2 linked regions of the Homo sapiens genome follow. The protein of the gene in region 2 interacts with the protein of the main gene of each other region in a pairwise test. Each region holds a gene or a part of one and is shown on either strand. Other genes may lie near its edges.

Evidence for each region.
Region 1: the proteins of C11orf54 (region 2) and PAK1 interact in binary tests that used the Homo sapiens proteins (3 or more experiments, as listed by UniProt).

Annotation. Positions count from the first base shown.
Region 1 is NC_000011.10:77,334,414-77,338,233, forward strand, and holds part of PAK1 (serine/threonine-protein kinase PAK 1), read right to left. Parts: intron 3,011-3,820; coding exon 2,911-3,010; intron 1,870-2,910; coding exon 1,673-1,869; intron 1-1,672. UniProt on the Homo sapiens protein: Protein kinase involved in intracellular signaling pathways downstream of integrins and receptor-type kinases that plays an important role in cytoskeleton dynamics, in cell adhesion, migration, proliferation, apoptosis, mitosis, and in vesicle-mediated transport processes.
Region 2 is NC_000011.10:93,755,166-93,758,985, reverse strand, and holds part of C11orf54 (ester hydrolase C11orf54), read right to left. Parts: intron 3,777-3,820; coding exon 3,600-3,776; intron 1,671-3,599; coding exon 1,521-1,670; intron 1-1,520. UniProt on the Homo sapiens protein: Exhibits ester hydrolase activity on the substrate p-nitrophenyl acetate, in vitro. Regulates DNA damage and repair by regulating HIF1A degradation via chaperone-mediated autophagy (CMA).

The sequences.
Region 1 (3,820 bases), about 16 Mb from region 2:
ATGACATGAGCATGTAGATGACCACCTACCAGCAACAGTGCACAGGGAATTCCTGCACTGGATGGGAGGTGGGAATAAATGAGAAAATAAAAGCAATCAGAATAAATTTCACATTTGCCCACACCAAGATTACCAACCTATTTGCACCTGTGTTGAGATGCTCTGTTACAAGGGATAAATTGTCCATGCTAATCTAATGTCCTTTACTTCAGTACTTGATCGAACCCCTCTCATCGACTTAAGGATATCACTTCTATGGTTGTCACTTCCTTCTTGTACATGACCATTTTCCTCCTCTCCACTAAATCATTCCCATTAGCACACAGACATCATCTTTTAGAAAAACCCTCCCTTGACTCCATTTTAAGATAGTGCTCCATTTTTGTTACCCTTCCCAGCAAAATTCCTTTAAGAGAAAAAAAAACCTGTTTATACATGCCATCTCAATGTCCTCTTCTTCCACTTTCATGAATTTAATTAGACTTTCATCCCCATCTCTCTACTGATAACTGATTATTAAGGTCATTAAGAACCTCTACATTGGCAAATCCAATGTTCATTTCTCAGTCTCATCTTAACCTATCAATCACATTTGACACATAATCTACCCTCCTCCTCCTTCGGGAAGCACACTGTTCTCTTCATCTCCAGGACACTTCACCTCCAAGACACTTCTCTGTTCTCTCACACTAGAAAGGCCACTCCTTGGTCTACTTTGCTAGTTCTTCCAACCTGTAAACAGTGGAATAACCTAGAGCTCAGTACTCAAATCTCTTTTCTTTAACTGTACTCATTCCCTAGGTGAGTGATCTCATCTACCTACTATATATACCAACTATATATTATCTACTAATAAATTTATGTTTATAGTCCTGACTTCTCACCCTTGAACTCCAGACTCTTAAGCCAAACTCTACTCCAGCTCCACTTAAATGTCCAATTAACACTTCAAATCAGCACATTCAAAACCAACTCTTTATTACCCAACTTAAGTATGCTCTTCACCATTTCAACAGATGGCAACTGAATTTTTTCAGCAATTCAGACCAGAAATCTTGTAGTCATTGCTGATTCCTCTTTCTCTAATATTCAGTTCATCTTGTCAGCTAGTCCTTTAATTTCCTGAATCTGACCACTTCTCACTTCCACTCCTACCAAGACACCACCACTCTGAACTATTACAACAGTCTCTCGCAGTCTATTTTCCATAAAAGCGGCCAAAATGATCTGTTTAAAACATAAATCAGATCACATTACTCCTCAGCTCAAAACCCTCTAATGACTTCCCAACTCTGCAGAATAAAATAACTTATAAGAGAGAACTTCCCTCTCTACTCTAAAATAGCACACCTGTTCCTCCATTACTCTGTTAACTCCCTTACTTTGCTTTTTCTCACAGCATTTACCATCTGTTACTACATATTAATTTATTTTATTTTCATTAGAATAGTTTCTTGCACTTGACAGGGACTCAAATAATTGTTGAATAAATGAATGAGTGACTTCTAATATTCCTTTTCTTTGGCCATTTATACTTTAAGTTCAACAGTGACTAGTTGTATCCAGAAAAGGGATCTCCAGGTTGAAAACCACAGAGAACACCCTGGATTCTTATTTCCTGGGACTAGAGACAACAGCCCAAATAACTTGAAATAGAACTGGTAACACTCACTCTCAGAGGGTTTTCATTGAGGTATGGAGGCTCCCCTTCAATCATTTCGATGGCCATGATGCCCAGGGACCAGATGTCAACCTTGGGCCCATAGGCCTTTCGTGTCACAACCTCTGGTGCCATCCAGTATGGGGTTCCTACCATGGTGCTCCGTTTGCTCTGCTCTGGGGTTATCTGTGCACAGAATCCAAAGTCAGCTAGAAAAGAAAAATAAGAGAAAGAACATACATTTAGGATATACACTCACTTCAGTAAGTGTTGACTGTGTACCTACACATAGGTGACAAGATCCGCCTGGCTTCCAGCTCTGCTATCCTTTGTCTCTCCAAAGTCACTTGACTACCACCTTCATGTCTAGCTCCTAGCCTATTTCCTATTGAACCCTGAAGAGAAATAGAAGGAATATAAGAAACACCATCTCTGGCCTCCTACTTCTCCTCAAACCAGGGGACTTAGTGTTAAAGTCCAAGCTGCCCATTTTGGTCTTGATTGCTCATCCCAATTCTGCTTTGTTCTTGAAAAACCATTCCCATAATCCCAAATCTGGCGACTAGGTCCTTGTCTTATTCCTTGGGCACGAGTCCTTGATTTAAACCCCAATCACCTATGACTAGGCATGGCCCTGTTTTTATGCCCCAGACCCAGGGCTGCTAGCAGTCCTTCCATAAACTGCCCATCCACCCATGACACAGCCTGTTTGTCTGGTCTACTGGTCTTTACACCTTTGAACAAAATGCTCTACCTGCCATGGTTTTTACATTATATTGCAATTATAAATTTATTTAAATTAGGAAGCCTTTGAGAGTATGGATTATGTCCTCTTACTTGTCCTCATATCCCTAGAAGGACCAGCATGTACTGGACATTCAATAAAAGTTTGCTGAATAACTGAATGAAAGAAATTATACAAAACTCTTTTTTCTAATTATCTATTACACGTTTTCCATACTAGATTGAGAAGGTAGGGAAAATTTACTCTCAGTGCCCATCACAGGACCTAGCACAGAGTAACCATTCAGCAAAGTTTTTTGTGGTTGTTGTTAAATGTATAAATGAATGAAAAAATAATGAAATGATATCCTATGATTAATACAGAAAATATAAAACAGCCCTCATATCCCATGAAATCATAAAGACCCTTTGGTGAGTGTCGTAGTTACTATTATATGATGACCATCTCACAGGAGACAGGGCCCCACAGGCAGAGAAGTATTATCATTCCTAAGGCTCCTACTTACTTAGCTTGACAGAGCCATCCATTCCCAACAGAATATTGTCACTCTTGATGTCTCTGTGAATGACCTGGTTCGAATGCAAGAACTCCAGAGCCTGCAGACACTATTGAAGTGGTGTGGGCAGGGGGAGAAAGAAAGGACATACATATAATACAGAAGACTTAATAGAAAATCCACTAATTCAACCTCTTCACTTTAAAATAAAGGAAGTAAGGCCCCAGTGAGTAAAAGGACTTGCCCCAAATCAATCGCAGAGCCAGATCTAGAAACAAGTCTTCCATCTCCTAGCTAAACATTCTTTTAACACTCCATGCTGCCTTTCACCTTAAAACAGTTTTTTTAAGTAAAGGAGTTCCTCCAATGTAATTTTTTTTCTAATTAGATCCTTGGTAAAGGACCTAAGGCCCAAGAGAAATTACTGAAGAAAAATGGAAAGGATCTTATAATGACAGACCAGAGGAAAACAACAAATAAGGGTCATATTTGAGGAAGCAGACATATGGAAGTGATACTAGAAGCAGTAAGTTAGCAGGATAATCTTATTTTGGTGAGGAGATATTTTGTACTATTTTGGATATGCTGAATTTGATATCTGAAGACAAATGTCTGGTAGGCAACTTAATTTATGATAAATTATGGTAAATATTTACAAGTCATTTGGGAAGAGATGATTTTTGTTTAAGTTATAAAAATGGTTGAACCCGGCAAAGGGTAAAGGAGAAAGAGAAGAATCTTGGAAAACACCTATACTTAGCAGGCAGAATGAGTAATAAAGAGACACAATGGTACAATTAAAATGCCTGGTTCTGCTGCTACCCCATTGACTATATAATTCTGGACTTCCATCTATAAAATTTGGGAATCAGATGAGATCATCTCAGCTTTTCTACTAAATCAATAATTTGATTTCATT
Region 2 (3,820 bases):
TGTCACCCAGGCTGGAGTGCAGTGGGATGATCACAGTGGGCCTGGAAAAAGCACCACAAGTTTCCACTCTGGTGTGTGGGATTGGCAGCTGGGCCCCCAGCCTTCAGGCCTTCCCTGGCCCGAAAGTGGGGCCTCACCGGAAACCCGCCCCCTTCTGCCCCGGAACCTGTCTGCCTCCTGCTGCCGATCACGGAATCCAGGCTGTAGGTGCCAAGGGGTGCCTGAAGGCCAGTGGGGAGCTGCTCTCAGCCGCCGCTCAGCTTCCCTTCTACGCTCGTGTCAGCGCCCCAAATCCAGAAGGGGCCGGGACGGCAGGGGGCTGGTGTGTCAGCAGTGCCCTGAGCGTGTGCACACCTGGCTGGGCTGCGACAGCGACCGGGCTCTGCCTGACTTTGCTCCTGGATCGGAGCAGGCGCCGACAGCAGGGAGAAGCCAGGCAGTGGGAGCAGGCATTTCCAAGCCTGTAAGAGCAGTGGGGGCCTTCCCAGACCCCCAAGAATGCAGGAATGCCTGGGTCCGCAGCCACGGTTTGGGCAGCTGCAGCTGTGTGGAGAAGGCAGGGCTCCTGCCTGCTCCGTGGAGCGGGAGACCCAGGTCTGCAGCCGCGGGTTTGAGCTGCTGCAGCTGCGCCTGGGCAGTTGGGGCTCTCGCCTGTTCCCACTGGGAGAGCACAGGGATGCCAGGGACTACAGCCATGGCTTGGGCGATTGCAGCGGCACCAACGGAGCTCCAGCGCCAACTCGGAAGGGGCAGGACTCCCACCTGTCTTCAGCTCCCACCCGCTCCATAGAGTGTGTAGCCTCAGCCGTGCCTCCCTGCTGCAGCCGCTCCAGAGAGCCTGCCGCTGCCATCATCACTATGTTGACCAGGCTGGTTTTGAATTCCTGGCCTCCAGCGGTCCTCCCACCTGGGCCTCCCAAAGTGCTGGGATTACAGGCATGAGTCACTCTGCAGGCCTTGAATTTATCTTGATCTTAAAAACAAACATATCCAAAATAAAGTTCTAATATACTAACATGGACAAAGATATTATCTTACAATCTGATTTATAAAATTATCATTTAAATTTTAAAGTAATACAATCATAATAAAAAGGATTTGTTTAAAGTGTCTTCAAATGTAGAATTCCCAACACATACTTTACAATCCTAAGATCTGGCCCGGTGCAGCGTCTCACGTCTGTAATCTCAGCACTTTGGGAGGCCGAGACAGGTGGATCAGCTGAGGTCAGGAGTTCGACACCAGTCTGGCCAATGTGGCAAAACCTTGTCTCTACTAAAACTACAAAATGAGCCGGTTGTGATGCTGCATGCCTATAATCCCAGCTACTCAGTAGGCTGAGGCAGGAGAACCCCTTGAATCCGGGAGATGGAGGTTGCAGTGAGCCAAGATTGTGCCACTACACTCCAGCATGGGCAACAGAGCAAGGATCCGTTTAAAAAAAAAAAAAAATCCTAAGATCTTAAGTAAGTGCACACACACAAACTCCTTCATGCATGTATGCACACATGGGCTCTTACCATAATGTGAGACTTCACTTTTCCCTTCTGAATTATGAAAGTACCTCCCATTCCTATAGGCTTATTTCCATAATGTTTTTCCAGGGTCTCTCTCATACAAGTCACAAAGTTAAGTGGTCCAGTTCTTCTTTTGGCTTTCACCTCAATTACCTATAGAGGACATAAAGATGCATACCATTGACTATGCTGCAAAATAACTACTGAAATAAAACATTATATAATTTAATTCTATCAAGCAAATATTCTGTTCTTTGCTTAGAGCCCCCAGATCTGAGTTGAGATGTTGCAATCCCGTGAATTTTGATCAGTCATATATATATGTATGCACACACACACACACATACTTATCAGTTACATGTAATTTACTAGTAAGTCTTAAGCATGCTTTCTTGAACTGAGAAACTGAGAAAGACAAGTTTCTCAGTGCAGAGAGTCTAGAGACTCTTAACATACGTGTCGAGGCAGTCAAAGATTGAGAATTACCTTTGGTAATTCTTTGGTTAAAGGAATTAACCTTTGGTAAGTGGGGATGAGGAGAAAATGATTACATTTTCTCACTTCCCTTAAAATTCTGTATTATCTCCACAACTTGGACGTTAAGTATTTTCACTTCTCAATCTCTTATCTCAAAGTAGCTGAAGAGGCTATCTCTACTTCCAAAACTGGAGAGTCTTCACAAAAGCTAACACTGAAATCATATTTTTGTGTACTAATAGGAAGTAAATATCAAGTAAGGCATTAGTTTTCCTTACTTTGTTCTTGCTGTAAGTTTTTGCTACCACCATTTCTATCTAGAGCAATGTGTGATTCATCAGAAAGAAGCAAATAACCTATTTACTACCTGTAAGTAGGCATTATTTATTTTAGCTGTATGGTTCATGTAGATGACAAACTCACTCCCCAAATTAATATTCTATTACCTTTTAGTTCTCAGAAAAAGGTCTTGCTTACTAAGTAGTCTTTTTTTTTTTTTTTTAAGACAGGTCTTGCTGTCACCTAGGTAGGAGTGCAGTGGTGTGATCATAGCTCGTTGCGGCCTCAAACACCTGGGCACAAGGGATCCTCCTGCATCAGCCTCCTGAGTAGCTAGGACTATAGGCATGTACCACCACACCTGGCTAATTAAAAAAAAAAATTTTTTTTTTTTTTTTTTGACAGGGTCTTGCCATGTTGCCCAGGCTGGTCTGAAACTGCCAGCCTTAAGTGATCCTCCAGCTTTGGCCTCTCAAAGGACTGGAATTATAGGCATAAGCCATTGTGCCAGCCATACTATTCTTTTTTTTTTTTTTTTTTTTTTTGGAGACAGAGTCTTGCTTTGTTGCCCAGGCTGGAGTGCAATGGTGCAATCTTGGCTCACTGCAACCTCTGTCTCCCAGGTTCAAGCAATTCTCCTGCCTCAGCCTCCCAAGTAGCTGGGACTACAGGCATGTGCCACCTTCCCTGTCTAATTTTTGTATTTTTAGTAGAGACGAGGTTTCGCTATGTTGGCCAGACTGGTCTCAAATGCTTGACCTCAGGTGATCTACCCACCTTGGCCTCCCAAAATGCTTGGGAATACAGGCGTGAGCCACCGCGTCTGGCCTCCAGCCATATTATTCTTAACCTTAAAGATGACTTTTGCTCTGCCTGTCATACTCTCTGAACCTTTCATTACTGGGTTATTTAAAGAGCTTTGACTTAGGAAGCTCTAATTTTCTTTTTTTTTTTTTTTTTGAGACAGAGTCTCACTCAGTGGCCCAGACTGGAGGGTAGTAGCATGATCTTGGCTCACTGCAACCTCTGCCTTCCGAGTCTGAGCGATTCTCTCACCTCAGCCCCCCCGAGTAGCTGGGATTACAGGCACACACCACCACACCCTGCTAATTTTTGTATTTTTTGGTACAGATGGGGTTTCACCATGTTGACCAGGCTGGTCTTGAACTCCTGACCTCAAGTTGACCTCAAGTTATCCACCCAGCTTGGCCTCCCAAAGTGGGAAACTAATTTTCTTAGCAAAACCATATTTATGGCAGTAAAAGTTCACATTTTTAGCTTTCTGAGAACATTTAGGGAATATTGTATTTTTATGGACACAATCACCTTGCCAGGTTGGCCTTCACTGGCAAAAAGATTAGCCAGTAATGCACACTGAAAATCATGACATTTCTCACTGTATTTCTCCAGTAGGCACCCTCCATCTGCAGGGTTCACATGGGCAAAGTAACTTCCATTTACAGGAGGCTTGTGTTCACTTTCTGTCTGAATAACTGGCATAAACTGAAAAGAAAGTGAGGCAATTAGTCAATCTTTGTATCTCTGCA